3 separate regions of the Homo sapiens genome follow, and regions 2 and 3 are each reported to be linked to region 1. The links are microRNA targets in miRTarBase. Many come from high-throughput screens and were not tested one by one. Region 1 holds a microRNA gene; each other region holds the end of a gene's coding sequence.

Region 1 (10,666 bases):
GGGAGGCGGAGGTTGCAGTGAGCAGAGATCGCAGCACTGCACTCAAACTTAAACACACACACACACACACACACACACACACACACACACACACACACACAAACTACTTATTTAAGTGAGGAAGAACTGAAGAAAGCAGTTTGGTAGTTCCTGAAAAGTTTAAACATACAATTACCATATGACCCAGCAATTCCACTAATATATACTCAAGTAAAAACATATTCATTTTAAAAAGCAAAAAAATGTGCCAGGCACAGTGGCTCACACCTGTAATTCCGGCACTTTGGGAGGCCAAGGTGGGCGGATGACCTAAGGCCAAGAGTTCGAGACAAGCCTGGCCAATATGGTGAAACCCCATATCTACTAAAAATACAAAAATAGCCGGGTGTGGTGGTGCACGCCTGTTGTCCCAGCTACTCAGGAGGCTGAGGCAGGAGAATTGCTTGAACCTGGGAGGCGGAGGCTGCAATGTGCCATGATGGCGCCACTGCACTCCAGCCTGGGCAACAGAGTGAGACTCTGTCTCAATAAAAAAATAAAAAAGAAAGGACAAAAATGTTCGAAGAAACATTTTTCACAAGAGTCAAAAAGTGCGAACAACCCAAATGTCCATCAGCTGATGAACAGATAAATAAAATGTGCTCTCTCCATAAAACGGAGTATTCTCTGCCTTCAAAAGGAATGAGTCCGGGCGCGGTGGCTCACGCCTATAATCCCAGCACTTTGGGAGGCCGAGCCGGGCGGATGACCTGAGGTCAGTTCAAGACCAGCCTAGCCAACATAGCAAAACCCCGTCTCTACTAAAAATACAAAAATTAGTCGAGTGTGGTGGTGCGTGCCTGTAGTCCAAGCTACTTTGGAGGCTGAGGCATGAGAATCGCTTGAACCCAGGAGGCACAGGTTGCAGTGAGCCGAGATCATACCACTGCACTCCAGCCTGGGTGACAGACTCCACCTCAAAAAAAAAAAAAAAAGAATTAAGTACTGATACTGATACATGCTACAACATGAACAAATCTTGAAAATATTACTATGCTACACCAAAGAATTCAGTCACAAAGGAACACATATTGTATGATTCCACTGGCAATCCAGAGATAAGAAAGTAGATGGGTGGTTGCCAAGGGCTGAAGGATAGAGGACTGGGACTAAGAGCTAACGGATGGGGTTTCTTTTTGAGGTAGTGGAAATGTGCTGGAATTAGATAGCTGTGATAGTTACACAGCATAGGAAATTTAAATCCACTTAAGTGTATACTTTAAAGTGGTGAATTTTATGTTAGGTGAATTATCTCAGTTTTTAAAAGTGAATGAAAAAAAGTGAAAGAGAGAGAGCAATACCAGCAAAGTATTTAACCAGAAATCAGTCGAAAGTCAATGAAGTGCTCCTGGTGTGCGTCTGTAAAAGATCCCCCTGGAGCTGTGTGGAAGACAGATAGGAGAGGGCAAAGGTGGATAATAAAATAATCAATTGCAAAGGTCCAGGTAAATGACAGCAGTAGCTTAAACTTGAATGGTGGTAGGTGTGGGCATGAAGAAAGGTGGATGGATGTGACAGCATTTTCAGAAATAGAACCTACTGGATTCTCTGACAAATGTGATGAAGGGAAAGGTTAGTATTAAGTATGACTGCTAGGTTTTTAGCTTGAGCTACTAGGAGGGGGATGGTGCCATTTACTGAACGGGAAAACTGGAGGAGGAACAAATATGAAAGTGGAGAGATGCTAATGACTTAGACGAGGGTGGCAGTCATGATGATAAAGAAAAGTGGCACTGACTAAGCATGGTGTCGTGATGAACTGGTTATGAGGGTGATATGTGTCCCCACCCAAATCTCATCTTGAATTATAATCCCCATAATACCCACCTGTCAAGGGAGAGACCAGGTGGAGGCAACTGAATCATGGGGGTGGTTTTCCCCATGTTCTCGTGATAGTGAGTGAGTCTCACGAGATCTGACGGTTTCATAAGGGCCTCTTCCCCCCTTCACTCGGCACTTCTCCTTCCTGCCACCTTGTGAGGGTGTCTTGCGTCCTAATTGCCTTCTGCCATGATTGGAAGTTTCCTGAGGCCTCCCCAGCCATGTGGAACTGTGAGTCCATTAAACCTCTTTCCTTTATAAATTACCCAATCTCAGGCAGTTCTTTAAAGCAGTATGAAAATAGACTAATACAGAGGGAATGAGATGCAATTCATGTTCTGGTAAGTCCGAATGATGCAGTCAGATCTGAAAGTCTATCAAAAGCTTTCTTATCTAATAGCAGTGAACTATAAATGTGTTGGTAAGGAATGTGCTCCTGAAAAAAGGCCTGATCTCCAGCTTTTTAAATAAATGACCACTAGTACTCAAGAAAATGAACTGCCATCCTGTCTCCCATGTGTAGTGAAAGTTACCAGAAATGTGTACCCATAATTTAAGCAGGGTAACTAAGTAAGCAGTCCTATAATAATATATGAAGTAGTGTCATGATATATTACCCCAAATATATATTTCATCCTGGTCTCTGCCTTACTGTCTCTGCACCAAATAAGGCCGGGCATGGCAGCTCACGCCAGTAATCCCAGCACTTTGGGAGGCTGAGTCAGGTGGATCACTTGAGGTCAGGAGTTCAAGACCAGCCTGGCCAACATGGTGAAACCCTGTCTCTCCTAAAAATACAAAAATTAGCCAGGTGTGGTGGCACACGCCTGTAGTCTCAGCTACTCAGGAGGCTGAGGCAGGAGAATCACTTGAACCCAGGAGGCAGAGGTTGCAGTGAGCCGAGATTGTGCCACTGCACTCCAGCCTGGGCAACAGAGCAAGACTGTCTCTCTCTCTCTCTCCTTCTCTAAATATATATATATATATATATATATATATATATATATATATATATATGCATTTTTTTTAAATGACATAAATTTACTGGAGTCATAGGTTTCAGAAAAGAGCATCTATGTATGGGAAGATTCCTATAGCTATTGTTGTGGAGACCTAAAGCCACCTGTTTTTAGCATCTCCTTTTTTAAAATCAAAATTACTACAGCAAACGTAAGGCATTGAAGATCGAGGTTTTGGTGTTTCTGCTGTGTCATGGACAGGATGTTTGTGTTCCCCTAAAATTCTTATGTGGAAATCCTAACTTCCAAGGTGACAGTACTAGGAGGTGAGGCATCTGACAGGTGATCAGGCCATGAAGGTGGAGCCCTCATAAATGGGATTAGTGCCCTAGGGAGCTCATTTCACTCTTTTTCTGCCATGTGAAGATACAATAAGTCACCAGTCTGCGACGTGAAGCCCCCTCACCAGTACCCAACCATGCTGGCATCCTGATCTTGGACTTCCAAGTTCCAGGATTGTGAGAAATAAATTTCTGTTGTGCATAAGCCACTGAATCTATGTTATACTTTTTATTTGTTTTGTTTTGTTTTTTTGAGGCAGAGTCTCGCTCTATTACTCAGGCTGGAGTGCAGTGGTGCCATCTCTGCTCACTGCAACCTCCACCTCCCTGGCTCAAGCAGTTCTCCAGCCTCAGCCTCCCGAGTAGCTGGGATTACAGGTGCTCTCCATCACACCTGGCTAATTTTTGTTTTTAGTAGAGATGGGGTTTCACCATGTTGGCCAGCCTGGTTTTGAACTCCTGACCTCAAATGATCCACCTGCCTCAGCCTCCCAAAGTGCTGGGATTACAGGCGTGAGCCACTGAGCCCCACCTGTTATACTTTTTTTTATAACAGCTCAAACTCATTTGGGGTTGGCATGTATGTTCTCTAAATTGACTGGTTCCCATGCTTTAAGTACAACAATGACCCTGCACCATTGCTCAGGTAATTGCCTCCTCCTGTAATGAGACTGCCCATCCCTAAAATCTCAGAACCTTCAGCCCTTTGGGTCCCCAGAGGCCCAGTTGACAGGCTACTTCCTCCATAAAGCTCTCCCCAAGAAATGAAGCCAGAGAGCCAGTGCCTCCTTCTGAATGCCTACTGCACTTACTGTGTATGTCCTTCAAAAGGATGGCTCTGGTGACCTACTGGCCTTGTGTGGAGGATGGTCCTGTGTGCTGGTCTTCTCTCTCTTCTACCAAACTGCAGGCTACTGGTGAGCAGGGCTGTACCTTACACACCTCTACAGCACCAAATAGGGGATGAGTGTTCCAAGAAAGCTGTGATTCACATGAATGTTTTCAGAAAAGAAGCCAGAATAAATTGTACACTATACTATAGATCCCTTAATCCTTATTACTGCAAAATACATTAATTGTGAAGCTTAAAGAACGTCCCCACTGCTTACACAACAGGTGTAGCTTACATAATCTGCTCTACCCAGCTGTTACTTACTTGTGGCAATTCCCTCCTGGCTTCTACTCCCTGTCGATATGTGGGATTACTGCACCATCCAGTATGATTTCCTTATTCCTTGCTCCAATCATAACAAATTTGTTAATTTTCCTTTATAACAGTAAAAATGGCTGAAACTCCAAATAACCAGAGATATCCCTAGGGTTTTCCATGACTATAAAACTCAAAAGACAATCCAGGATATAAACCAATATTTGTAAATATTGCCATAAAATTCATTGCTCAGAATTTTTTTTTTCCTATATAGTCTTCTTTGACAAAATACTGCAGTATTCCCACCATTTGGAAATTGTGTTACCCAAAAGGTATAGAATGGGATGAAGTGATGATGCAAATGAGTATTAGGACTATGAGCAAATGAATGGGAGCAGTAACAAAAGTCCAAAAGTCAGGAAAAATGAAAATCCACGAACTTGGCGATGCTCCAGAGAGGAAACCAGCAAGTGTTGACGCTAAACTGGCAGAAACATCAATACTTCCTGGCTCCCCCACTGGGTGCATCAATTTACCACCGGCAGGCTGCTCTTCTGCTTCAAGTGACAAACAGTAAGTGCTTTCAATGACAGTATGAAAAGGAATGACCCATAATCTAGAAGCATGGCTATGGGCAGCAAAGAAAAGATGTGATTGCTGGGAGTCTGTCTCAGCTGTACTGCTGATTAGCTTAATGATCTTGGACAAGTCATTTCCTTTCACTGAAAAAATACCAGTGTTTCACAATATTTGCGTGATGGAAAGAGTTAACATAGCAGGCCTGACACTGCTATTCTTAGTAAGGCCTGTTTGCAAGGTTGGTCCTTGGCTGGTGTCTGGGGACTTGGATTTTGGGAGGGTTTCCATCACCCTGATAAGAGTGGCTCACTCTGCTTAAGCTGTGTAAACAATAGGGTTTACACTGAATACCTGCTTTCCTCCTTGGGGTCTGGAATTTTGCTGTGTACCAGGTGGAGGGTGCCTGTGTGACCAGCTCCCACTAAAAACCCTGGGTACTGAATCTCTAATAAGCTTCCCTAGTAGACATTTCACACAAGTTGTCAAAACTCATTTGCTAGAGGAATTAAGCATGACCTGTGTGATTTCAGTGAAAGAGGACTGGAAGCTTGCACATGGTTTCCTCCAGACTTGGCCCCAATGAGCCTTTTCCCGTTACTGACTTTGCTCTGTATCCTTTTGCTATAATAAATCACATCCGCAAGCGTTTCTATGTACTGAGTTCTGCCAGTGAATCAACAAACCTAGGCCGGTTTTGAGGACCTCTGTCACAATTGGTATAGTGTTGAATAGTCTACCAAACGTTTTTTTCAACAGTCTTGTGAAATAGGTATTATTATTCCCATTCTATCGATGAAGAAACTGAAGTTCAAAAAGGTGAACAGAGAGTGTGCCCAGAAAATAAATATTTCCGTGTTTACTATATTATATATTGCTGTTCTCAAATTTTAGTGAACCTAAGAACCACTTGGAATGCTTGTTAAAAACAGTTTCTTGGAGTCTGTCACCCAAGACTTGGATTCAGTAAGTTCAAGGCCCAGGAATCTGTATTTATAGTAAGCATACAGGATTATTATTATTTGAGATGGAGTTTTGCTCTTGTTGCCCAGGCTGGAGTGCAATGGCACGATCTCGGCTCAGTGCAACCTCTGCCTCCCAGGTTCAAGTGATTCTCCCGCCTCAGCCTCTCAAGTAGCTGGGATTACAGGCCTGTGCTACCACTCCTGGCTAATTTTGTAGCCCAGTCTGAAATGCATAAGCTTCTTGGTGGCTGCTTCCTAAACTGATCATTCTTCATCTGTTATTACTGACTCAGACTGTGTTACCAATTCAGCTCAAAACAATTAAACAAGTATTAATTGAACATCTACTGTTTACCTGATGCTGTGCTAACTGCAAGATCATTTTCAAGAACACTTCTGATTTTTCCAAGAATACCTTGGTAAAGAGAAAGGGACTAGGAAAACATTGCCACATTAATACTTTATGACAACATATAATAGAGACGTCTAAAAAACAAATGATGATATCTGCTTGAACAGCAATATCATCAACATCACCAATCCTCCCATATTCCATTAAATACATATGGCACAAGAAATCAATGATTTCTACTTCACAAATACAGGTTAACCTTCTAAATCTGGAAATCCACGGTCCATTATCATTTATAAATCACATCTTCTATTATCAAGAAGTCAGCCGACCCAGTAATCCGTCCATACACTGCAATAATTGAGGGGCTGTCTGCCAATGTGTGGGCATAGGGCATCCTGTGCCCATATCTGCAGTGCTGAGCACTCATTCATCATTAAGCTGCAGCAGTGTTAACATATGCTGCAGTTGTGCCAGTATGTTTTGTTTTACGATCACCGCTAATCTACCCTTATACCAGGCCAAGAAGGTAAATGTTAAGTGAAAGGAAATAAACTCGAGAGCCAGCACCTAATTCATTTGTGGAAGCCCAGAACCTCCCTCCACCTAACCAGAAAAACTCCCCCAGTCTCGAGGGTTCCAGATGTAAAAGGTTCATCTGTATAAAGCACTACAGATGTACAGGAAATTCCACCACCTTGAAGAAAAAAATAGTATTTTTTTTTTATATCCCATGCATTCACCCTCTTTGAGAGAACTGAATAACCATGTTAGACAAGCAATGAGCCTTGATTTTTTCCATCACTCAACAAACCAGTATTTGATTTCACTCAGTGGGCTAGTTCTTTGCACATCATGCAGACACAGCAAGGTTAGTTATGGTTCTTTCAGGGGCCACTGGCCATCCTTTACCTCCTAGAACCCACTGCTCAGCAGGTGGTAAACTGGCAGCTTTTTGAAAAAACAAGCTCTTTTGAACAGTTGCATCAATATAAAAATGGCCAGCTTCACCTGCCCAAATCTCAATTCAGCTAAAAGTTAATTAGGAACACTGGAAACTACCTGGTATATAGGCACTCAATATTACTCACTAAATGGCTGAATTATTAGCAATAAGCATAAACAAAAGGAACAAACAGTAAACACTTACAGAAAGTATTCAGGACACATTCAGAGTTTTATGTTGCTTAGTCACTAAAAGGTAGATCAGGAAAAAAGAAGACAAAACCTGCTTTCACTTGTGTAAAGATTTATTTCAAGTTACAGTGGTTCATTTCTAAATAAGTTTCCCACCTTGCGTGGGGTCAGCCTAGCATCTATTTGCAAAAGAGCAGTTTGCCATGCGTAGGTCAGATGAAAGGAGACAAATGCAAGAAACTCCTTTTTAACTGACATCCAAACAACCAGAAAATAACTGATATTGTACAATCTATTTTTAGTAGAAAGAAAAATGACAAGTATGTAATAGTAACTTATTCACAAAGATCAAATTTCATGGTATGTCACAAATGTATTCAATGCAATGCAGTTACCATGCCCTCTATATCTATAGTTGTGTATGTAATGATAATTACAGCTCAGGAAGACAGGAACCTTGTCTGTCTTGCTCATCTACGACCCCAGGATTGACTGCAGTGCCCAGCACATAGTAGGTGCTCAGTGAATATTTGCTGAATGATAATTGCTCTGCAAAACCATACAATGCCTTAATCATCTAAGAAAGAGGCCAGGCATGCTGGCTCTTGCCTGTAATTCCAGCACTTTGGGAGGCCGAGGTAGGGAAATCGCCTGAGGTCAAGAGCTCGAGACTAGCCTGGCCAACATGGTGAAACCCCGTTTCTACTAAAAAATACAAAAAATTAGCCAGGCGTGGTGGCAGGCGCCTGTAATCCCAGCTACTAGGGGGGCTGAGGCAGGAGAATCGCTTGAACTCGTGAGGCGGAGGTTGCAGTGAGCCAAGATCGTGCCATTGCACTCCAGCCTGGATGACAAGAGTAAGACTCTGTCTCAAAAAAAATAACAATAAAAATAAAAATAAATAAAAGAAGGGGATATTTTGTGGCCGGGCTCATGCAGATGGCAGATCCTGGGACTTCTCAGCCTCTGTAACTGCATGATCCAATTCCCATAATAAATCTCAAAAAAAAGGAAAAAAAAAAAGATTATACTATGGTCAGTATAGCTTTCGGCATTAGATGTATTTATTCTAATTCTTAGAATACTAGTAATGTATACGGTATACCCCAACTAACAAGAACTCATTCTTTGCTCATTCTGCATAAGAGCGGGTTTACAATAATCACTATCTGTAAGTAAAGGTTATTATTTATGGGATACATACAAAAGTTGTTCTTTCAAAAAATATTTTACTGAACACCTACTAGGGACCAGGCACTGTGCTAGGAGCTAAGAACACACTGTGAACTGTCCCTGTCTAGGACAGCCTTTCTCAATTAGGGTTCCTTCACTCCAGCTGCGCAGGAAAATGTTAATTTATTACTAACAATGCATGTCCTAGGGCATCAGTGCCAATTCTCTCCATGTTGAGAAAGACTAGGGAGCCATACAAGTTAAAAGGCAATTATAACACAATATGATTTAAAAAAAAAAAGTTGCTTTTAAGTATGGTCAAGTTCAACTGCTAAACCTAGACCTCTATGAACAGCCATGTGGGAGCCGAGATACACAGACCATTTGTAATAGTTGTGCAAATGTAAAAATATTGCAATACATACATACAGATATATTTCTAAACACAGTAAAATAAAATCAATATTTTCCCGCTCGTCAATGTCAGGCCAGGATTATTAGTAAAGTGAAACAGAAAAAAAAAAATGTTTAATTACTCTGATAGTTTAAAGGGGAAACTAAAAACCTTCTTGCTCCTGGGGAAAAAACAAAGCAATTACCTGAACTATTTTCTTAATTGCCTCCATATATTGCTTCATTAGACTAGCCTTGCCTTGGACTCAAAGCAATAAATTAGCTACCTATTTCATTAATTCTTATTTTGTATTTTTTAGTCTTATTTTAAATTTCCATTCTTCCTTATGCAGTCTAATTTCTTCCTAGTCCTGGGCATCTTCTGTGTGATATTATGATTATATGCTACATGCTTTATGAAACCAAAGCAGTTTAAGGGCTTCTAGAATCAGAGATTTAAATGTACTCCAGTATTTCACACTCACAATTAAGCTTTCATGTATCAAAGGTCTAGAAATGCATACCTGTTAACTATCACTGACAAGCTAAACTGACAGCATCCTCTTGACCAAGCCCCCAACCTACTTTATCAAGAAATCTCTTATTTTGAATCTTTAGTATAAAATAATTTCATAAGCCAAAAAGAGGGGGGAATTGTTTTTAGACTTTCAATAAATCTTTAAACCCAAGAGAACACGTTACTATAGTCACTAGGAATTGCATTAAGAATAAAACAAGACAGGATAACATAAAAGTCCATGACCCTTAAATCTCAACTAGTCCAGACTTCTGATTAAATATGCCTTTGAAGAAAATAAATTGTACAGACAGAGTTATTATTACTTATTTACTGTATTTATGGAGATGTTGACTTGAGAACAGGTGGTGCTTTTATTGCACTCAGAGACATCCAACTCTTAAATCCTTTAGGACACCCTCTACATGCCTCAACCCTAAAATGCTATACACCAAATCCACCAATTTCTTTCCACCTCAAAACTGTCAAAAGGAAAGTCATAATTCATCAGAAAGAAAGGAACACAGTTATTAATGGCAAAGAAGTCAAGACCATGTATTTAAAAAAATACAATGAATCACTATTTTCTTTTAGCTTGAAATTGGAAAACTCGAAAAATAAATGGCATTTCAAAAATGATTCAGCAAACACAACTGAGCTATAGAAGATGATGCTTGTAAGAATCCTAAGGGATTCTTCCACGTCAGGTTTAAAATATAAAGGAAGCACTTCTCTAATATGTAGTCTAGTTTTCAATAACCAACAACTACAATCAACACCACTGTAATTTATTTCACAATCAAAACCAATATCAGACACGTACAGGTACACTAAAAAAACAACTCATTTTGAAAGGAATTCATAGCTCTATTTCTAAAATATTAAAACAATCATAAGACAACTCACAACCTTGACTACATCTATACTGCTGTGAAAGTCTCAAAGTTCCACTCAAATCTTTAATTCTAGTCTTCTAGTAATTCAAATGGAAGTACCCCTCAAAGAATTTGTCAGGCAAAAGAGGAGAACAGCGCATGGTTTACTGATCTAAGAGATGGAAAAATTGCCCCCCTCCCCCAAATTTTGAAGCCGTTTTTTAGCAATGATTATTTGATAGTAATTTTCACATTCAGTCCAACGGTATGCAGATTAATTCCTTGCCCTGGGCCTAGGGCTCAGACACAACTCCTAAGAACCTTCCAGCTTACCGCACTGGTACAAATTCCTGATACTTACCACAGTC
Region 2 (10,579 bases), not on the chromosome of region 1:
GGGTAAGATTACGTGTAATAATCTTTTCACTAGCTGGGCGCAGTGGCTCGCGCCTGTAATCCCAGCACTTTGGGAGGCCGAGGTGGGTGGATCACCTGAGGCTGGGAGTTCAAGACCAGCCTGACCAACATGGAGAAACCCCATCTCTACTAAAAATACAAAATTAGCCAGGCGTGGTGGCTCATGCCTATAATCCCAGCTACTCAGGAGGCTGAGGCAGAAGAATTGCTTGAACCTGGGAGGCGGAGGTTGTAGTGAGCTGGGATCGCTCCATTGCACTCCAGCCTGGGCAACAAGAGCGAAACTCCAACTCAAAAAAATAAATAAATAAAAAATAATAATAATCTTTTCACTGATGGTTATCTATATTTTCTAAAATGAACATTATCATTATCGTACACTCATACACACCTTTTTTTTAAGTGCCTCATATTTTAACGCAGAGACTTCAGGCCCTTCCCCTTGCCATGCTTCTCCAGTTTTATAATCACTTTTGGTGAAGGGGCCTTTTTTTTTTTTTTAATTGAGAAGGAGTCTCACACTGTCACCCGGGCTGGAGTGCAATGGTGCAATCTCGGCTCACTGCAACCTCTGCCTCCCAGGTTTAGGCGACCCTCCTGCCTCAGCCTCCTGAGTATCTGGGATTACAGGCGCCTGCCACCACACCTAGCTAATTTTTTGTATTTTTAGTAGAGACGGGGTTTCACTATGTTGGCCAGGCTGGTCTCGAATGCCTGACCTCGTGATCCACCCGCGTCAGCCTCCCACCGTACTGAGATTACAGGTGTGAGCCACCACGCCTGGCCCAGTAAAGGGGCATTTTTGTCAGAGGTCCCTGAGCCTAGAACTAAACAGCTAATTCTAGGTCTGATTCCCAATAATAGTGAGATAACTACAAGAGAAAAATACCGTACCGAGGTTCATGTAGCAACTTCCTAAATGATCGTGTAAGTCTTCTCTGGAGCTCCATTCATACTCGCAGCCCACAGTCTTTTGCATTTGGTCCAGTTGGCATTAAGATGCAGTTGTGCATGGTGAAGACTGTGCCACTCTTTGGGGCATGGAGACAGGCCTTGGGATGGACCCCTCTCCTATGTTAACTAATTCCTTTGTTTCTTCTCCTCCCACAATTAGCCTCTGAGAACCAGAATGGGAATGGACTGAGTGCCCCACCAGGTCCCGGTGGTGGCCCACATCCCCCTCATACTCCCTCCCACCCACCCAGCACCCGAATCACTCGAAGCCAGCCCAACCACACACCTGCAGGCCCGCCTGGCCCTTCCAGCAACCCTGTTAGTAACGGCAAAGAAACCCGGAGGAGCAGCAAGAGATAGCATGACATTCTTTCTTCCTGCCACCAACCACATCCCAAGTGTCCCCTGGAGAGCAAGATAGCCTTCCACTGATTGGCTGGTGTAGCAGTATTTTAGCCACTGAACTTCAGTGGAGGGTGGTGAGCAGTGTCCTTATCCACCCTAATCTCATACTCCCTCATTGTCCAGCTGAACTACCTGTCCCCTGGGAGTCAGGACCCTCTGCCTGCTCTCTTTCCTCTTTAGAAATGGCAGTTACTGGCTGGGCGCAGTGGCTCACGCTTGTAATCCCAGCACTTTGGGAAGCCGAGGTGGGCGGATCACCTGAGGTCGGGAGTTCAAGACCAGCCTGACCAACATGGAGAAACCCCGTGTCTACTAAAAATACAGAATTAGCCAGGCATGGTGGCGTATGCCTGTAATCCCAGCTACTTAGGAGGCTGAGGCAGGAGAATCTCTTGAAACCGGGAGGCGGAGGTTGAGGTGAGCCGAAATTGCACCATTGCACTCCAGCCTGGGCAATAAGAGCGAAACTCCATCTCAAAAAAAAAAGAAAGAAAGAAAGAAAGAAAGAAAGAAATGGCAGTTACCATCTGTTTCTTCTGTGTGAGACATGGGAGTCTAACTGAAGTCTCTCCTTCCTAATAAATGTTACCACTCTACTCTGTGTTGGACTCCTTTGCTTTCTGTGGGAAAAGGAAGAGGTTAGCAACTAGGCATTTGGGAAGGTGGGGTGTCCCTAGAAGGTGGAAGGAAAATAGGTTACAGGTAAGGAGGCCCAGGCAAAGCAGACCTGCCCCTTTAAGGTAGTGTCCCTCCCCTACCCCCTCCCTGCAGGTGACCCTTGCCCGCCTGCCTGCCTGCCCCCCCAGCTGGAACCAAGAAGGTTGTGTCCCCCTTCCTCTGGGTGTCCTTGTCTCCTGCTATCAGGTAATGCCAACCTCAACCCCCTGGACCAGTCACCCCGATCAGACTTTGCTTGCCTGATTTTAGGCCAGGTCAGACATCAGAGGAGAGCCCAGATCCTTGTTTCCTCTCCCCCCGCAGGGCTTCCCCTTTCTTGGTCATCGATCCCTAGAGCTCTGGCTCTTTCTCTTCTTGGGGTGAGAAACTGCTAAGAACAGTTTATTTCCCATGCATGCATCTGGGCTTGCCACTGATCTGCCTTTTCCCCCCTCCTCCCCAGGTTAGGGACACCTGGGTCCAACCTTCCCAAGGAATATGGGGATGGGGGTTGGAGATGAAGTTTAGTGCTAGACTGTAAGGTAGGTGGGGTGGAAGTACATGAGGGAAAGGGCTAAAATGGTACTAATGGTGTTAAGGATAGGGTGAATTATTTAAGAGGAAAAAGACTAGGCCCAGGTTCTCCTTAGCCATGTGGCTTTCCCAGGGCAGAGGGTGGCCCCTCCCTACCCAGGGGCCCAGCAGAGACTGACTTTTGATCCCTACCCCAGAGACCAGTGAACCATTAACTCCTCTCTTATGTGAGCCTTCACACACTGGCCCCACCCCTGACCCCGCCCCAAGGCAGGTGGGCTAGGAGGGGGTGCATGTCCATCTCAGCCTTCTATGTGACGTGGCCTCCGATCCACCTGGACACCTGGAGGCTAAGCCTGGATTCCCCCTTCCCTGACTCAGGAACTGCTTAACGTCTACAGCAAGGCCTAATAGGGGACCTGAGGTGACAGCTCTTATGTTGCCAGTAGGGGTGAGGCCCTGGGGATTGAGGGGGGATAAAGAGGTGGGGCAAAGTTGAGGGGTGGGGTTTAGGGGACAAGGAATGGACGGTCAGCTCTGGATGAAGTATGAGGAGAGCTCTGACTCAGGGAGGTGCTCCAGGAACCAGCAAACAAGAGGCTGCTCCCGCAGGAGGCAGTGTGAAGGGAGAAAGAAGGCTGCAGTAGGGGCTGCTGCTGGACTCGGTGGGGAGCAGGTGCAAGGAGCTCTGGCTCCCCCATGGACCTGAGCTGGAGAGCAGAGCGCAGCTCCAGCCCATTCCTCATTCTTCCAGGGCACAGTCCTCAGGATGTTTCGGGGAGAATAGGAGCCAGAACCTGAGCCCCTAAGCTATTCCCCTCACCAATGATGGGGTCCCCAGTGAGTCATCTGCTGGCCGGCTTCTGTGTGTGGGTCGTCTTGGGCTGGGTAGGGGGCTCAGTCCCCAACCTGGGCCCTGCTGAGCAGGAGCAGAACCATTACCTGGCCCAGCTGTTTGGCCTGTACGGCGAGAATGGGACGCTGACTGCAGGGGGCTTGGCGCGGCTTCTCCACAGCCTGGGGCTAGGCCGAGTTCAGGGGCTTCGCCTGGGACAGCATGGGCCTCTGACTGGACGGGCTGCATCCCCAGCTGCAGACAATTCCACACACAGGTACTGACCCCTTCCTCCACTCCACAGGGCCACATCTCCCAGGTCCTCTCAGTGCTTGCCCCCAGTTGCCTCGTTCTGGCTTCCTCACGAGATCCCTGGAGTTACAAATTCTTCAGAACCGAGCTCCTTGGTATCTCTTCAAAACCTCTCATGCTTCTATTGCCTTCTCTCTCTTTTCTTGAGACTGGGGGTCTCGCTTTGTCACCCAGGCTAAAGTGCAGTGACACATTCACGGCTCACTGCAACCTCTGCTTCCCAGGCTGAAGCCATCCTCCCACCTCAGCCTCCTGAGCAGCTGGGACCATAGGCACACACCACCACAGCCGGCTAATTTTAAAAATTTTTTACAGAGACAAGGGTTTCGCTGTGTTGCCCAGGCTGGTCTCAAACTCCTGGGCTCAGCTCAGCGATCTGCCTGCCTCAGCTTCCCAAAGTGCTGGGACTACAGATGTGAACTACCACCCTAGCCCTCCGTTGCCTTCTAATTCTCTCCTCCTCCAAATCTCTAAGCCCTTAAATTTCTTGCTCTTAGTATCACTGTTCAGTGTCTCTGGGCTGATTTGGCTCCAAATTCGTAGACTTCTTTTTTCTTTTCTTTTCTTTTTTTTTTTTTTTTTTTTTTGAGACAGAGTCTCGCTCTGTCGCCCAGGCTGGAGTGCAGTGGTGTGATCTTGGCTCACTGTAACCTCTGCCTCCCCGGTTCAAGCGATTCTCCTGCCTCGGCCTCCTGAGTAGCTGGGATTACAGGCACACACCACCACGCCGGGCTAATTTTTGCAATTTTAGTAGAGACGGGGTTTCACCATTTTGGTCAGGCTGGTCTCGAACTTCCAACCTCAGGTGATCCACCCACCTCAGCCTCCCAAAGTGCTGGGATTACAGGCGTGAGCCACCGTGCCCAGCCATTCGTAGCCCTTTTGGTTGTCGTCCTTTTTTTTCTGTCCCCCCCAGTGGCAGAAAATGGACAACTCACAGATCTTCCTAAGAATGACATTCCATGGTTTCTGGGTCCCAGGATCTCCAGTCAGTGGCTAGTCCCCCCATTCCCCCTAAAATCCCTGGGAGCCTCTCAAAGCGGGTTGATAGAGAACACAAGGGAGGCTGACTTGCTGTCTCATCCATTCCAGGCCACAGAACCCTGAGCTGAGTGTGGATGTCTGGGCAGGGATGCCTCTGGGTCCCTCAGGGTGGGGTGACCTGGAAGAGTCAAAGGCCCCTCACCTACCCCGTGGGCCAGCCCCCTCGGGCCTGGACCTCCTTCACAGGCTTCTGTTGCTGGACCACTCATTGGCTGACCACCTGAATGAGGATGTGAGTCTGACGGTCTCTAGAGGGGAAGGAGCCATGGGATTAGATGGCCTGAAATGTTTAAATAATCAGTAGTTTTTTGTTTTGTTTTGTTTTTAAATCCCAACGTGGACCAAGCGTGGTGGCTCACGCCTGTAATCCCAACACTTTGGGAGGCCGAGGTGGGTGGATCACCTGAGGTCAGGAGTTCGAGACCAGCCTGGCCAACATGGTGAAACCCCATCTCTACTAAAAAATACAAAAATTAGCCGGGTGTGGTAACAGGTGTGTGTAATCCTAGCTACTCAGGAGGCTGAGGTGAGAAAATTGCTTGAACTTGGGAGGCAGAGGTTGCAGTGAGCCAAGATGGCACCATTTGCACTCCAGCCTGGGCAACAAGAGGGAGACTCTGTCTCAAAAAAAAAAAAAAAAAAAAAAAAAAAAAAAAAAAAATAGCTGGGCGTGGTGGCACATGCCTATAATCCCAGTTACTCGGAAGGCTGAGGCAGGAAAATCACTTGAACCCAGGAGGCGGAGATTGCAGTCAGCCGAGATTGCACCACTGCACTCCAGCCTGGGTAACACAGCGAGACTCTGTCTCAAAAATGAAAATAAAAAAAATAAAAAAATAAAAAAAAAATATCTCACTGTGGTCTTAGGGGATGTTATTTCAATAGTGAACTATGTTCCCTCTGGGATCAGAGCAGGTGAGCCCATATCCAGAGCTCCAAGACTCAGTTTAGGGGAATAGATGGCAAAGCAGAGAATCTAGAGAAGCAGCCCAGGGTAGGATCTGGATGGTCACCTGGAGAGGAGACCTGCAGGGAATGGATGGCTGTCTTCATCCAGAAAGACAGAGAATATATTCCACTTACACCAGAGGGCAGACAAAGCTGCCTAACCCTGATGGAGGTCCAGTGAGTGCCCATTGCAGGAAGCATTCAAGCTGAGGCTGGATGAACATCGACAGGGCTGTTGAGAGGGAGATTAGATGGCATTTCAGGGTCTTTTCCCTTTTAAGATTCTGGCATGGAGAGCTCTAGTTTTCCAACCAGCTTCATTTATCAAATCAACAAAATGATTGAAATGATCAGAGTTTGCAGGGAAGATGATGACAATGCTCACTAGCACCCAGTTTGCATCAAATTGAATACCTGCATTGGACTGAATATTCACTAATAATACACATTGATTATAAGTACCCTTGGCCCTAGTCCCCAAGGTACCTGCCAGTAGGAGCAAAGGGGACCCTGGGAGAGACCCAGGAGTCTATGCAATGGAAGGACAGGTGTTAAATATATATATATATATTTTTTTGAGGTAGAGTCTGACTCTGTCACCCAGGCTGGAGTGCAATGGCGTGATCTTGGCTCACTGCAACCTCCACCTCCTGGGTTAAAGCAATTCTCCTGCCTCAGCCTCCCGAGTAGCTGGGATTATAGGTGTTCACTACTATCCCCAGCTAATTTTTTTTTTTTTTTTTTGAGATGGAGTCTCACTCTGTCGCCCAGGCTGGAGTGCACTGGTGCAATCTCGGCTCACTGCAACCTCTGCCTCCTGGGTTCAAGCGATTCTCCTGTCTCAGCCTCCTGAGTAGCTGGGATCACAGGTGCACGCCACCATGCCCAGCTAATTTTTTGTATTTTAGTAGAGACAGGGTTTCACCATGTTGCCCAGGCTGGTCTCGAACTCCTGAGCTCAGGCAATCTACCCACCTCAGCCTCCCAAAGTGCTGGGATTACAGGCGTGAGCCACCGCACCCGGCTCATCCCCAGCTAATTTTTGTATTTTTAGTAGAGACAGGGTTTCACTATGTTGGCCAGGTTGGTCTCAAACTCCTGACCTCAGATGATACACCCGCCTGGGCCTCTCAAGGGCTGGGATTATAGGTGTGAGCCACTACACCTGGCCAGGTGTTAAAGATCTGAGTCATAGTTCCTGGTGATTCTCCAATGTATGACCCTCAATTCTCCAGTGTCTGAACGGCTCCCAGCTGCTGGTCAATTTTGGCTTGAGCCCCGCTGCTCCTCTGACCCCTCGTCAGTTTGCTCTGCTGTGCCCAGCCCTGCTTTATCAGATCGACAGCCGCGTCTGCATCGGCGCTCCGGCCCCTGCACCCCCAGGGGATCTACTATCTGGTCAGCAAGTAGGAGTGGGTGGGGGACACCCTGAATCCTGGAAGTGGGGCCCATGCCAAAAAGGAGGCTCACTGGGGTCCTGCCTCTCCTTGTAGTGTTCTCTCTGCTCCACCTTACGTGTGGGACCCTCCTCTTGCCCTGACCTAACTTCAGCCCCTGATTCTCCCCAGCCCTGCTTCAGAGTGCCCTGGCAGTCCTGTTGCTCAGCCTCCCTTCTCCCCTATCCCTGCTGCTGCTGCGGCTCCTGGGACCTCGTCTACTACGGCCCTTGCTGGGCTTCCTGGGGGCCCTGGCGGTGGGCACTCTTTGTGGGGATGCACTGCTACATCTGCTACCGCATGTATGTGAAGCCCCTTCCTTGTACCCCTGGCCTCCATGGATCTAAGGTGTCCCCAGCCATAGGACATCCCCTCCGCCTTTCCATCAGCTCCCATATCCTACTCCCAGATCCTGGCTTCAGCCCACAGCTGCCTTCTAGTAGAGCATATGAGCGAAGGCTTGCCACAATCCATGCAAGGGGATGTTGTTGGGTATAGGGGCTTCCAGAGTCTGCCCTGACCTTCTCTCTGTCAGGCACAAGAAGGGCGGCACGCAGGACCTGGCGGACTACCAGAGAAGGACCTGGGCCCGGGGCTGTCAGTGCTCGGAGGCCTCTTCCTGCTCTTTGTGCTGGAGAACATGCTGGGGCTTTTGCGGCACCGAGGGCTCAGGCCAGTGAGTGATACCCTTTTCTCCTCCTTCTGCTGAGACCAGAGTCCCAGTCAAGAACTGGGCCAGGCCGGGCGCGGTGGCTCACGCCTGTAATCCCAGCACTTTGGGAGCCCAAGGCGGGCAGATCACAAGGTTAGGAGTTCGAGTCCAGCCTGACCAACATGGTGAAACCCTGTCTCTACTAAAAATACAAAAATTAGCTGGGCGTGGTGGTGCGTGTCTGTAATCCCAGCTACTCAGGAGGCTGAGGCAGGAGAATCGCTTGACTTGGGAGGTGGAGGTTGCAGCGAGCTAAGATGGCACCACTGCACTCCAGCCCAGGTGACAGAGCGAGACTCCATCTCAAAAACAACAACAACAACAACAAAACTGGGCCAAAAAGCCAAGAGATGAGGAGCAGTGTGTGCTCCTGGATCTCTGACATTTGCCTGGTGTGCAGGACCTATCGGCTAACAGGGAGTGGGTAGGGGCTCCTTAAGCACAGACCCAGGACTTCTGGCCAAATGGCATCCTATTCTGAGCTCAAGTCAACAAGAAACAGAGGGGAGGTGCCAACTTGGGAAGAAGGTAGAGGCCAAAGAACATCCCAGGTGCCAGAGGTGGAACCAGGTGTTCATCTTCCCAGCTTGTGGCCTGGCTTCCCCTTAGTCCCTGGCTCTGCTGCCTCCTCCACCAGGAGGGATGCCCTCCTATTTCAGAGATGCTGCAGGCGAAAACGAAGGAATCTCGAAACACGCAACTTGGATCCGGAGAATGGCAGTGGGATGGCCCTTCAGCCCCTACAGGCAGCTCCAGGTGACTAGAGGAGAAAATTTGAAGAGTAGGTTCCAAGCTCACAGTCCTTACTTGCAGCCACCAACACTGTCCTGTGCTTCTTCCCGCAGAGCCAGGGGCTCAGGGCCAGAGGGAGAAGAACAGCCAGCACCCACCAGCTCTGGCCCCTCCTGGGCACCAAGGCCACAGTCATGGGCACCAGGGTGGCACTGATATCACGTGGATGGTCCTCCTGGGAGATGGTCTACACAACCTCACTGATGGGCTGGCCATAGGTGTGAGGGGTGGGAACGGAGGGAAGCAGGTCCGAGGGGAGGCCAGGGCTCCTAGTTATCAGCTGGGGCTAGGAGAGGGCCGTCAGGAAGATGGGGAGAGGACGGGAGGACCACGGAACACAGGAACCTGCTTCTGAGGAGACTTTTCTTCTGGACTGACAACTTCCGACCCTGCTGGCCCCAGGTGCTGCCTTCTCTGATGGCTTCTCCAGCGGCCTCAGTACCACCTTAGCGGTCTTCTGCCATGAGCTGCCCCACGAACTGGGTAGGAATGGCAGGAGCAGGGTGGGGTGGACTCCAGAAAGGAGATAGCTCCAAGGGGTAGAGCTTGGAGGCTGGTGGGTGGCATGGATGAGGGGCACCCCAGCTTACTCCCTCCCATCCTGTCCTCTGTCTCCAATAGGTGACTTTGCCATGCTGCTCCAGTCAGGGCTGTCCTTTCGGCGGCTGCTGCTGCTGAGCCTCGTGTCTGGAGCCCTGGGATTGGGGGGTGCAGTCCTGGGGGTGGGGCTCAGCCTGGGCCCTGTCCCCCTCACTCCCTGGGTGTTTGGGGTCACTGCTGGGGTCTTCCTCTATGTGGCCCTTGTGGACATGGTGAGAGATGTCGGGTAGAGCAGAGAAATCAAGGGCAGTGGGGAGGCGGGAGTGGAGAGGGAGGTAGCAGTCCCTCCGCCTCTACCATTAGCTCCTGGAAGGGCGTCAGACCATAGGCCCGCAAAAGTCTGAGAAACAAGGGACTAAGGTGTTTGGGTGGGGGCTGCTGATGCTTTCTGACACCATTCCTCTGGAGTTGAGAGGTCAGGGGCAAGGCCAGAATCCTGACATCCTCTTTTTCTTTCAGCTACCAGCCCTGCTTCGTCCTCCGGAGCCCCTGCCTACGCCCCATGTGCTCCTGCAGGGGCTGGGGCTGCTGCTGGGGGGCGGCCTCATGCTTGCCATAACCCTGCTGGAGGAGCGGCTACTGCCCGTGACCACTGAGGGCTGATGGGGCCAGTGGAAAGGGGTCGGGTTGCCCTTCCTTCCCCCCAACCACAGGAATGGAGGCGGGACACAGGGCCAGTAGGAGCAATAGGATTTTAATAAACAGAACCCATCCCAAAGCCATGACTACGACAGTTGTACTTGCACCAAAACAGCATAGAAAACCAGAGTGTGGTGGGAGGACCCGAAGCCGGTTGGGGGAGGATGTGAGTAGGGGCCTGGAGGGTGCAGGGTCATTAATCTGCGGGGAGAACATTGTGCTTTAGCCCAGGGAGGGGAGGGGTGGGGCAAATGCACCGAGGTCCCCACTTTTTCCTGCTGCCCTCGGCACCCTGGGGATGCAGGCATCTGGGCACATCTGCCCCTTATTGCTGCCCACCAGCGTTAAACGCCCCCGATCCCAACACTAGCACCACAGGTGGTTCCGGGGCAGGGAGAGGCAGGAATGGGAAAATTGCTTAGAGAAAGATTCCACTAGAATCCAGTGAATTGTGCTCAGTTCTCTTTACTTCCTACAACCGAGTACATGGGTCACAGGGTGGAGGGTGCAACAGGACATGGAACATGCCCCTCCGTGCCCCCCAACACACACCTGCACACAGGATGGTGGTGTCTGCAGCATCACAGGTCATGCAGGGCATGGGGAAGGGGAGGTTCACACACACATAGATGCCCACAGCGGGTACCAGACGGAGAACACCCCTGAATATACATAGCTGTACATGGGGAAC
Region 3 (10,666 bases), not on the chromosome of region 1:
AGATTATAGTATAACTGTTATATATTATCAAAGAATCTACTATGTCAAAAGAGAATTTATTTTGGAGAAAAAATCAGGTAACTATGTAGATCTGAAAAAGTTTGATCTGTCAACTTTATAACCTGTGGATGATACGATGCGAAAATAGTCTGTTGATTTTATTAATTTAGTGGAAAACATGATCAATTCAGTCAGCTCAGGTATTAACAAATTATAAAATTAATTAGCCTTTAAAAAATGTCTTCTATTTGTTGGGTCCACAAATATAGCCAAGATAATATTTATAAAGGACCACAATTATATATTGACCACAATTATGTGTAAGACCACTTCAGGCCAGGTGTGGTGGTTCACGCCTGTAACCCCAGCATTTTGGGAGGCCAAGGTGGGCGGATCAAGAGGTTAGGAGATTGATACCATCCTGGCCAACATGTTGAAAGCCCGTCTGTACTAAAAATAAAAAAATTAGCTGGGTGTGGTGGCGCGTGCCTGTAATCCCAGCTACTCTGGAGGCTGAGGAACGAGAATCACTTGAACCCGGGAGGTGGAGGTTGCAGTGAGCTGAGATCGTGCCACTGTAGTCTAGCCTGGCGACAGAGTGAGACTGTCTCAAAAAAAAATAAAAAACTAAAACTAAAACCACTTGAAAATCTTTAATAATGTCATCTCAGTTGAGTAGTTCTTAAGCTTTCAGAAATAATTACAACTATAGTGCAGTGCCTATTCTAATTTTAGAGCTATCTTGTCTAACAATTGGCTCATCACATACCAACTATGTATTCTTTTTTTTTTTTTTTTTGAGACGGAGTCTCGCTCTGTCGCCAGGCTGGTGGCAGTGCCACGATCTTGGCTCACTGCAACCTCTGCCTCCCGGGTTCAACCGATTCTCCTGCCTCAGCCTCCCGAGTAGCTGGGGCTACAGGCTTGTGCCACCATGCCCAGCTAATTTTTCTATTTTTAGTAGAGATGGGGGTTTCACCATGTTGACCAGGATGGTCTCGATCTCTTGACCTTGTGATCCGCCCGCCTCAGCCTCCCAAAGTGCTGAGATTACAGGCATGAGCCACTGCACCTGGCCAATTATGTATTATTAAAAATTAGAATAAAATTATACGCATAGATTAGGTTATATAGTACACACACACACTTTGTATGTTAGATGTGTTAGGCATAAATTCATACACCTACATGATGATTATTCTGTTGCTTTGTGATTCCATAGATTTGGTGATACTGATAAATATACCAAGGGCAGTTAATGCACTTCAAGAAATACAGCAAGAATACTGGTACATGGAGAATATGGATGGAGCTTTAATATCTGTAAATTTTACAAACTAAGTGGAAAAATAGAATTATCTACCTAATAGTAAGGTAATCGTAGTCTTTAGGATCAGCAGGATAAAAGTCATGTAATGTAGGAGTTCTATCTTCTGGGTTTAAATTCTACCCAAACTCTTACTGGTTTTACAACTTAGACACAATTGTTAATTTTTCTATGCCTATTTCCTTATATGTGAAATGAAATGATATCTACTCCAGGGTTGCTGTGAGAATTAAATGACAAAATACTTGTTTGTCAAATGCTCAAAACAGTGCTTTGCACACAGTAAATATTTAATACATATAAGTTATGGTATTTCTTAGTCTATTTATCAACATTGTTTCTCAGAGAATTTACTTAAGTGATTTTTTTTTTTTTTTTGCAGTGGTGCGATCTCGGCTCACTGCAACCTCCCCCTGCTGGGTTCAAGCTTCTCCTGCCTCATCCTCCTGAGTAGCTGGGATTACAGTTGCCCGCCACCACGCCCGACTAATTTTTGTACTTTTAGTAGAGATGAGGTTTTGCCATGTTGGCCAGGCTGGCCTCCAACTCCTGACCTCAGGTGATCCGCCTGCCTCGGCCTCCCAAAGTGCTGGGATTATAGGCTGAGCCACCACGCCCGGCCTTAAGTGTGTATTTTTTAGCTAAAGGCTAGTCTTTTAAATATATAGTATTATTTTAGCCATCTTCAGTAGAAATATTTCCAAAATGTATTAAATGCTCCATTAATTTATGCCAATATTCTGAACACAGTGTAATTTTCATATTGATTCAAGTTCATTACAAATACTTACCATTGCCCTGTAGTTCAGGTTTGTTATAGGGGTGTTGAAGTCTGTTTCAAACTCCAAAATGGCCTAAGACTGATTATGCTCTTGCTTTCACATGTGTAAGCTTGCATGCCTTTCACAGTCACCCCCTTCCTTTCCCTTTCTAACCCACTGTAGACTGAGAAACCTGATGAACAGGTTTATTAGAATTATGCTGAAAATAAGACAAAGTGAGCTAGCAGGAATTGGAAATGGCTCTTCTGAGTGTGACACCTTTACCCATTAGTCAGGGACTAATCCAGCTCCACGAGTCTTTTATACTTATTTCTGGATCCTTGGCTACACTTCAAATAGCTGAGGTTGTTGGATATAATGTCCACATTAAATAAGTATTAATCTAATGACAATAGTGCTTTAAACTGAAATATGGTAGAGTCAATTACAGTGCCATTTTGCAGCTTTACTGAGGTGTGATTGGCAAAACTTGCATATATTTAAGGTACACAATGTGTTTTCATATATATATATACTGAAATGATTACAATACTCAAGCTAATTAAAATATCCATCACTTCACATAGTTACCATTTTTGGTGTGGTGAGAACACCTGAGATCTACTCTCTTAGCAAATTTCAAATATACATTATTAACAGTAGTCACCATACTGTATATTAAATCTCCAGAATTTTATAATTGAAAGTTTGTACCCTTTGACCAGTATCTCCCCTTTTCCCCCACACAGTGACATATTTTGAAAAATCTATTCAGAACTTTCCTACAAACAACTAGGTCTTAAGCTCTCAGTAGATCTTTGAGCCTCTTTCAAGTTACTGTGATTCAGTAATGCATGAAAGGATAGAAAGCAATACTCTGTCCTCCTGCCTTGGTCACTGCTATGGTTTGAATGTGTCCCCTCCAAAATTCACAGTTTAGTCCCCAATACAACAGAGTTGGAAAGTGGGGTCTTATGGGAGAAGTTTATTTAGGTCATGAGGGCTTCACCCTCATGAATGTATTATTGCCCTTATAAAAAGTGCTTACAAAAGTAGATTAGCTCTCTTTCTGCCATGTGAGATTACACTGTTGCTTCGGAGGATGTTGCATTCAAGGTGCCATCTTGGAGGTGGAGATAGGGCCCTTACCTGACACCAAACCTGTTGGTGTCTTTATCTTGGGCCTCCCAGCCTCCAGAACTGTGAGAAATCAATTATTAATATTCTTTCTAAATTACCCAGTTTCAGATCTTCTGTAATAGCACAAAATGGACTACAACAGTTGACTTTAGACTCAGCATTATGAAACAAGTCAGTCCATGAACATTCATTTGTTTGTAACTTGGATCAGTAAATTACAAATTATTTTTTAAAATAGGAAATAACAAAATAATATAATGAATGCCCCATTACAGATAAAATTACCTTCATGCCCATCCACACTGATCCTTGTCCTCATGCCTGCCTCATAGGTAAGCACTCTTGTGAAGAGGGTGTGAATGTTTTTTGTTTTTCATTATGAGAGAGTATATATTGAAGGATTCATTCAGAGCTAAAAGGCAAATAAACTGATAACTGACAATATACAAGCTTAAGGAGGAAAATGAATGACAAAATTTCTAGTGATCAAGAGTGAGTGAATTGCATTTTAAAAACAGTTGGTAAGTAGGCTGGGTGCAGTAGCTCATGCGTGTAATGCCAGCACTTTGGGAGGCCAAGGTGGGAGGATCGCATGAGGTCAGGAGTTCAAGACCAGCCTGGCCAACATGATGAAACCCCAACTCTACTAAAAAAAATACAAAAATTAGCTGGGCTTGGTGGCATAGGCCTGTAGTCCCAGCTACTTGGTAGGCCCAGGAGATGGAAGGTGCAGTGAGCTGAGATCGCACCACTGCACTCCAGCCTGGGTGACAGAGTGAGACTCTGTCCAAAAAAAAAAAAAAAAAAAAAAGATGGTAAGTACTAAATTACTATAGCATTTAGATTCCATTATACATATTTTAAGAAGTCATGTATGTAATTTACTTTAAACTGCTGATGTTTATATCTGCTAAGATTATGACCAATGTTACATGTTTAACTTAAAAATATGCAAAGGGGTACATTTTTAGGGGCTAGGAAAACAAGTTAGAAAACATGGGATTAGAGAATACATCTAAAAGTGAAAAATCTGGGTTACAGGGCACAGGCAACTTCAACTTTACAAGATATTGCAAGTTTGCTTTCCAAAATGGATATATCAGTTCAAGTTCCACCTGTGTTTCCTCTTCCTTGCCAACACATGGTATATCTTGCCCTTTTAAAAAAATCTTTCAGAAAGGATGATTCAAGTATCCTGAAAACTTACTCATAATACATCATCCGTTTCTTTCCACAACCAGCAAACCAAATTAATTAGTATACTGTACCAGGGGTGATACCCTGCAAGGACACCTAATGAGTCCTGGGGTGGCTGGAGCCTGGGTTGGTTGCCTTCTGATGCTTTCAGGCTCTTCTGAGCAGTGGGAGTGGAGCTGATTCTGAAAGTAGGCCCTGGACAGAGAGCAAACTCAGATACTCACTATTCCTAGCCAGATGAGTCACTGTCCATCACAGAAAAGGGTGGGGGGGGGGGGGGGGGGGGGCGTCTACAAAGCTGTGAAAGAAATACGTTCCAGGTGTCCAAAGAGCAGGAAGGAAGCCCAAGTGTGAGGCCCCCAGGTGTGGCTAGTTGGATTTGAAAGGGTTGGGAGCTGGAGGTGGGAGGAGGGCTCCCTGCAGCCTCTAATTGCCTTCACATATATATAAAGTTGGTGGCTGTTTACTCTTCAGTGGTGTCTCACCTAGCAGTAGGATTATGTAAGGGAGATTACAAATTAGAGCATCATGATTTTAAAATAATTGTAATAAACATCAATTTGAATTTGAACTTAACTCACAACATTATTTCCCAAAGAAGGAAGCGTTAAATTTCTTAGTTTCAACTGCATAAATTAACGAATGGTTATTTTTAAAAAAGACCTAAAAATTATTACCTGTTTGTGGGGTGTTTCTCATTGGTGACAGTATTAAAACATTTTAATCAAATGTCAATTAAATCAATTAAAACATCTGGCAAGATTTTATTTGAAAGTTCCATACAAATTCAGTATTTTTCCTCAAATCTTCTACATTTTTTCATCAATTATATAATTTAAAAAAAGTAATTTTTTTCTCTAATTCTTTCTGGTTTATACCAGTATGCTGTACAATATTTTCTATGTGTGCTACAACATGACAAAGGTTGGGAAACATTGATACAATGTGGTATGGTCCCTGGGTATTATTCACATCTGCTGTGTTACTCCATTAGCACTGTGTTATGTTACTGGCTTCATAAGGATCCAATATGACTCATGCTCTAAGTCCCAAGCAAGTTTCCCCATCTTTGTGTTCAATTTCTGCATCTTTGTGGTGGGGAAATGGAAAGTAATTTTAGATAGATATGTAAATTTCATATAGTTTAATAAGCTATGTTTTGAAAATATTTAATACCTTGGTTTAAAGATGATCTTGTGTATCTGTGAGCTACTGAGCTAACAGCAATGGAAAATTTCAATGAAGAATCGGAGTTTTAGCTAGCCAAGACCAATCCTTCATTTTAGAGATGAGGAAACCAAAGCTGAAAGAGGAGTCTGTGCTCAAGTAGAGCCAGAGCTTAGACTAGAAAACAGATGTCAAGCCTCCCAAATTTAGAGCTTTACTACAATAACCTTAACTTGCATGCTATTCATATTAGTAGACTTTCCTTTTTCGTACATTTTGGGTACGTCTTAAATATATACTTAAACATGTTGATTCATTCAAAGGACTCAGATGTGTCCAGGAAAGTAACGAAGTGGTAAGTAAAAAGTATAAGGACAATTATTTGTGAACACCAGATTATTCCAAGATAAAGCAGTGCCTGGAAGAGTCAATGTCTGGAATGATAAGGAAGGGAAGATGGAAGGAAGAAAAGAAGTCCTTTTGTTTCCTATGAATAAGAGCTGTGAGTCTCAACAACCAAGAACAGAGATCAGAATACCAAAATAAATAAAGGAATATAGGGGTTTATGAAGAATTTAATATTGGCATATCTAAGTATTTTTGCATTTGGTATAGGAATCTTCTTTTAAAAAAGCAGCCCCTCTAGTCTATAAATTAAGTTTTACCATATTGATAATGTAATGTATTCTAGGTGCATAATATACTGAGATTTTGTGCTAAGAAATCCAGTGTTTGTTTGCTTTTAAGCTTGTATTTTGTCAAAGTGAATTTCTGTAAAAAAATCTTCCAAACTATTCAGCTAAGACTTTTTATAATGTATCTCAAATTTAAGCTTTGCTGCACCAGAATACAACCAGAATACTAACACATTATTATACACAATATAAGGATTATTGCAGTTTATTTAACACTAAAAGTAGTCATGCTTCATATACAATAAAATATATTACAATGATCATTTTTAATGCTTTATTCATTGATTAAAAGAATATACATTTAACATAAACCATACAACATCAGTCATCAGGTCAAACATTCAGCTGGTTTCCTTACAGTTTCTGTCAGGAGTTATTTTATCTGATCACATTTATAAGATAAAATCTCACCACATCTGGCATTTACACACACTGTGCCAGTGGATTCACACTACTGATGTACATATAAAATCCGCATGGTATGTGCTCACTGGAGACAAAACAGTGCACACCTGTCAAAAGGTCATTTTAATATAAGATGGTAAAACCATTTGTAAAACACATATAAACTTTTTTCCATAAATAGAATCATATCTGGACATCTGTTGCATAAATTGTGTTTCCAAAGCTTACAATAGAGCAGCCAGGTCTCAGCACTGCTGGGCACCCAGGTTGGCTACTTACTTTATTATTGCAGACTGTCCTTTAACATTAAATGCACAACATTCGTACCACTTAAAACTGGGGTCAGGTGGAAGTCTCACAGAGACCACGTCTGTACCGCGGTTGCCCTGAAACAGTTAATAGGCTTTTAAAGCCTCTCAGATATAACAAGGTTTTAAAACATACTTCATGGAATGTTCTTCATGTATCATAGCAGCTCATACCTGTGATAGAACAAGCTTTCAGTTTTTCCTTTCTTTCCTTTACATTCACTATTCACAGTGAAACAGGTGCATGTTTTTTTTTTCTTTTTTTTTTTTTTTTGTTTTGTTTTTTCAGAGTTCTGAGGTTGCTGACTGAGCCACAGCACAGCTGTGTACCACAGGTCGAAATTCGACCTTAAATATTACAATCTAGCAGTATCTGGCTGGCCAGAGTGGGCCGGCCCCTGCCAGCATGTGGGCACTTCTTCATTAAGTCTATTCTTTGGCAGCTGACACGCGTGCTGACAGAGAAAAATCCAGTGACTTGTTGCTAGGGATTTCACGACTAATGTTTTTGCAAGCATGTGTATTTACAACTCTGTGTTTTTATTTCCTTTAGGAGATTTTACTCTGAAATACAGTTTCTTTCTTCCCCCACTATTTGAAATCTGGGCTAAATGAATGTGTAATGTAATTGATGAATAAAATTATGTCAGATATAGTTAAAAAATCCAACAATTTCAGTATTCGTGTTTACGTAAATGCATTTTTTTTAAAAGGATTAAGCAATGTTCTAACCTAGTACTATACAAAATTCAAAATGGTAACTGGTGATATCAACTATTAGATATGTAATGAAAGTTAAAGTCTTGGCTTTTCTGTTACAGATAATTCATTTGGGATATTATTTATCTTCCATTTGAAATCAAAATTAATGAAATGCTATCAGAATGCATGGATGCAGTGCATTGCATATAAATCTACCAGGCTATGGATATATATCTATATATGTATAAAAATATTTTGGCTCCTGAGCTCTGAACTCTGACACACAAAGAATAAAAACGTCAAAAAGGCAGAGTAACTCAGTGAAAAATAAAGTTAGCCAGCAACCTCAGACAATCTTCGGCTGTATATCCTTAAGGTTTGGTAACAAGTCCATTAACCGTGAAAGCCCTATACATTGTCACTTTGAACTTCTAAACCAATACCCGACTACGTTCTTTGATCAAGAAGTAGAATATACATATATAATTCTATAAAGCTAATACTGATTAAACACAGCACAAAAGGATTAATTCACACTACTGAAAAAAAAACATAATAGGACCCTACTTGCATATGTAACCACAGGAATTCTACATTAAAAAAAAGCTAAATGTCTTCACTGAAGCTTTGCATCTCTCTGTAAAAATGACGATTTGGTTCAGTGAAGACACTGAGTGATTCGATGTCCATGACTGCATGCCAAGGTTGACCCAGGCCCAGGGATACCTGCTCAATAAGGTTATGCACTGGATCTACATCCTGGTCGGCCAGTTCACCTTGGTCAAAATCAATGCTTTCTTCGGTGACTTCAAGCACTTTCAGATCAGAGCCCCGAAGACGAGCAATGGCAATGAGGTTGTGTGCCCACACCGTGTAACCTGAAAAATAAACAAAAGACAACACTGTAATTTCCTTGCATTTCCTTTTCTCTTTGGTAAGTCTGTCTTTTCCTCATTCAAAGCTTCTAGAGAAGCTTCAAATTTGTATCTCACTTACCGTTTTGGTCTTTTTCCTTTAGAAATATATTGAAATTGGAAAAGGAAACATGGTTGTATAGCCCAGAAAAAAAAAGGCTAGAAGTTGTGTTCAAGAGTTACCGCTATAGGTGGTGAATTGGCAGGTGATCTAATCCTTTATGACACTACTTCATTCAGTAAAATAGACATTTAAAGTATATACAAATAAATTTTATAGCTTTGGGTAAAGATGTACCATAAGGATGAAATTTTTAGTTCATATATGCATGTATCTGTTAACCACACGTGGTAAATGTATTTTTCATTTGTGAAAAATCATCTCCTATAATGCTTTGCGAAGTTATGTAGTGACACTTTAAAGGTAAACTGTTAATTGTCAGTAGCAAATACGTAAATTATAAAACAATCATGTGAATGATATGCACCAACTTCAGAATAATAACTACTTCTGGGAAGGAATAAAGAGGAATGAATACGGGGAGCTTTAGCATAAAGAAGAAAAAGGCTTTAAAAAGACTGGCTTAAATTAACTTTTAAATAACCTGATATGTCTTTAGCCCATTGTGTTTAGCACTTTCAGTATTGATCTAGTCTTTTCTGCTACCTCTGATGACTGGCATAAAGCAAGACTTGAAAAGCAAGGCATACATTCCCAAATACAAATGCACACTAAAAAAAAAATAATGAAACAGTGCTAGTAGGATAGCTAATAAGAGAGTTTAAGACATTCTTATAGACTACTTTGTAATTATCTTACAAGTATCCGAAAAGGAAGTAAATTTATTTGTCAGAATACCAACTCTAGATCCAAATGAGAACAGGTCACATTAAAATGAAAGAAGCATATCAATGGAACCATCGTTAAAAAAATTATATACATTAATACTTTGATACCAAGAATCTAAAAGATGAGGTAGTGAGCATGAAAGAAATCATACATTCTCTTCCCCCGCACTATGTTTTAAGGGGTCGTGTGATTAGAGGAAATATATCTACCACAGGTATGTGTGCTTTCTTAGCTAAATTAATTTCACTGATTTTTTATGAAATACTGCCATTCACATGATGGACAAAAAAGTAACAGGGAAGCTGGAGCAGAACACTTGGGTTTGAATATGATTTTCCTTTTGTAAGTGATATATCTTGCAAACTTTAAAAAGCATAAGAATCTGTATATCAACTTGATACAAGATTTCTTGATACTATAAAGGTCAGTGCTATCTCTTTACTGGCAGAAAATGTTTTCGGTCTAATTCCAGTATCAGATTACAATGAACAAGATCACCTACCATGAATTGCCAGAAGAGAGAGCTTTGTGCACCTCCATGCTAATAAAACCAACGGATCTTCATTTCGGTTGTCACTAAGATCTGGAAAACCAGATGTGTCAATCACATCATTCATTAAAATAAAATGAGTGAGGAACTTGTCATATTGCCTGGATATAAGATCAACAATAGCCCCTGAAACACAAGTGATATAGCTATCAAAATGAATCCTCTCTAGTGGTATACTGGGTTTCAGAATCTTTAACATATCTTCACTCTTGATATCAAAAGCCATTATATAGACCCGAAAGCTGGTGCTCTTTCGTGACAGGGCTTTCCAATGCTCATCATTTGGCATGTTGTCCAGAGACTTGTGCATTACAGAAACATTGTGAACCAGAAGAGACAGTCGTTGCAAAGGCACATGGTTGCTATCAGTTAAGACTCTTGCCATCTCAGCTGTAAAGTCACAAAAATCCAAGGCAAGTGAGTGCAGATTCACAAATCGCTCCAGTTCAACTGCAGTAATAAGAGTGCTGTTACCAGGAATATTATTGTCCAGTAAACTGAGGTGCTCCATGGTGTTGGCAACAGCATTAGAGAGAGATGACAGTGATGTTGGGGTTACTATTTCCAGCATAAACCCACAGGACAGCCATTTCAGTTGCCTACTATTACTCAGGATTTCTTCAAACAGTTGCTGAATTCTATAAGGAAAA

The links. Region 1 holds the annotated microRNA hsa-miR-505-3p (CGUCAACACUUGCUGGUUUCCU, at 4,768-4,789, opposite strand). A microRNA usually pairs through its seed, bases 2 to 8, with sites in the 3' UTR of a target mRNA and lowers its output. Matches are read on the target gene's strand: a 7mer-m8 pairs with bases 2 to 8, a 7mer-A1 pairs with bases 2 to 7 and ends in A, and an 8mer does both.
Region 2: miRTarBase lists NABP2 as a target of hsa-miR-505-3p. The part of its 3' UTR that is shown has no 7-base or 8-base seed match.
Region 3: miRTarBase lists FBXO33 as a target of hsa-miR-505-3p. The part of its 3' UTR that is shown has no 7-base or 8-base seed match.

The regions. Positions count from the first base shown.
Region 1 is chrX:139,919,393-139,930,058 of GRCh38, forward strand. MIR505 (microRNA 505) reads right to left here and starts at 4,839; the gene lies at 4,756-4,839. All of the region lies in intron 1 of ATP11C (ATPase phospholipid transporting 11C (ATP11C blood group)), which reads right to left.
Region 2 is chr12:56,227,880-56,238,458 of GRCh38, forward strand. NABP2 (nucleic acid binding protein 2) reads left to right here. Exons shown (of 7, transcript NM_024068.4): 7 at 1,135-1,975. The coding sequence ends at 1,334. It overlaps SLC39A5 (solute carrier family 39 member 5), which reads left to right and starts at 2,172. Exons shown (of 13, transcript NM_173596.3): 1 at 2,172-2,243; 2 at 2,361-2,416; 3 at 2,952-2,994; 4 at 3,325-3,682; 5 at 4,810-4,993; 6 at 6,945-7,107; 7 at 7,278-7,447; 8 at 7,681-7,821; 9 at 8,517-8,613; 10 at 8,703-8,867; 11 at 9,052-9,132; 12 at 9,271-9,461; 13 at 9,709-9,967. The coding sequence starts at 3,396. The coding sequence ends at 9,852. ANKRD52 (ankyrin repeat domain 52) reads right to left here. Exons shown (of 28, transcript NM_173595.4): 28 at 9,928-10,579. RefSeq lists a silencer at 9,026-9,244.
Region 3 is chr14:39,391,208-39,401,873 of GRCh38, forward strand. FBXO33 (F-box protein 33) reads right to left here. Exons shown (of 4, transcript NM_203301.4): 3 at 9,969-10,654; 4 at 6,477-8,580. The coding sequence ends at 8,309. Among named protein-coding and RNA genes, the nearest start is that of FBXO33, 36 kb to the right of the region's middle.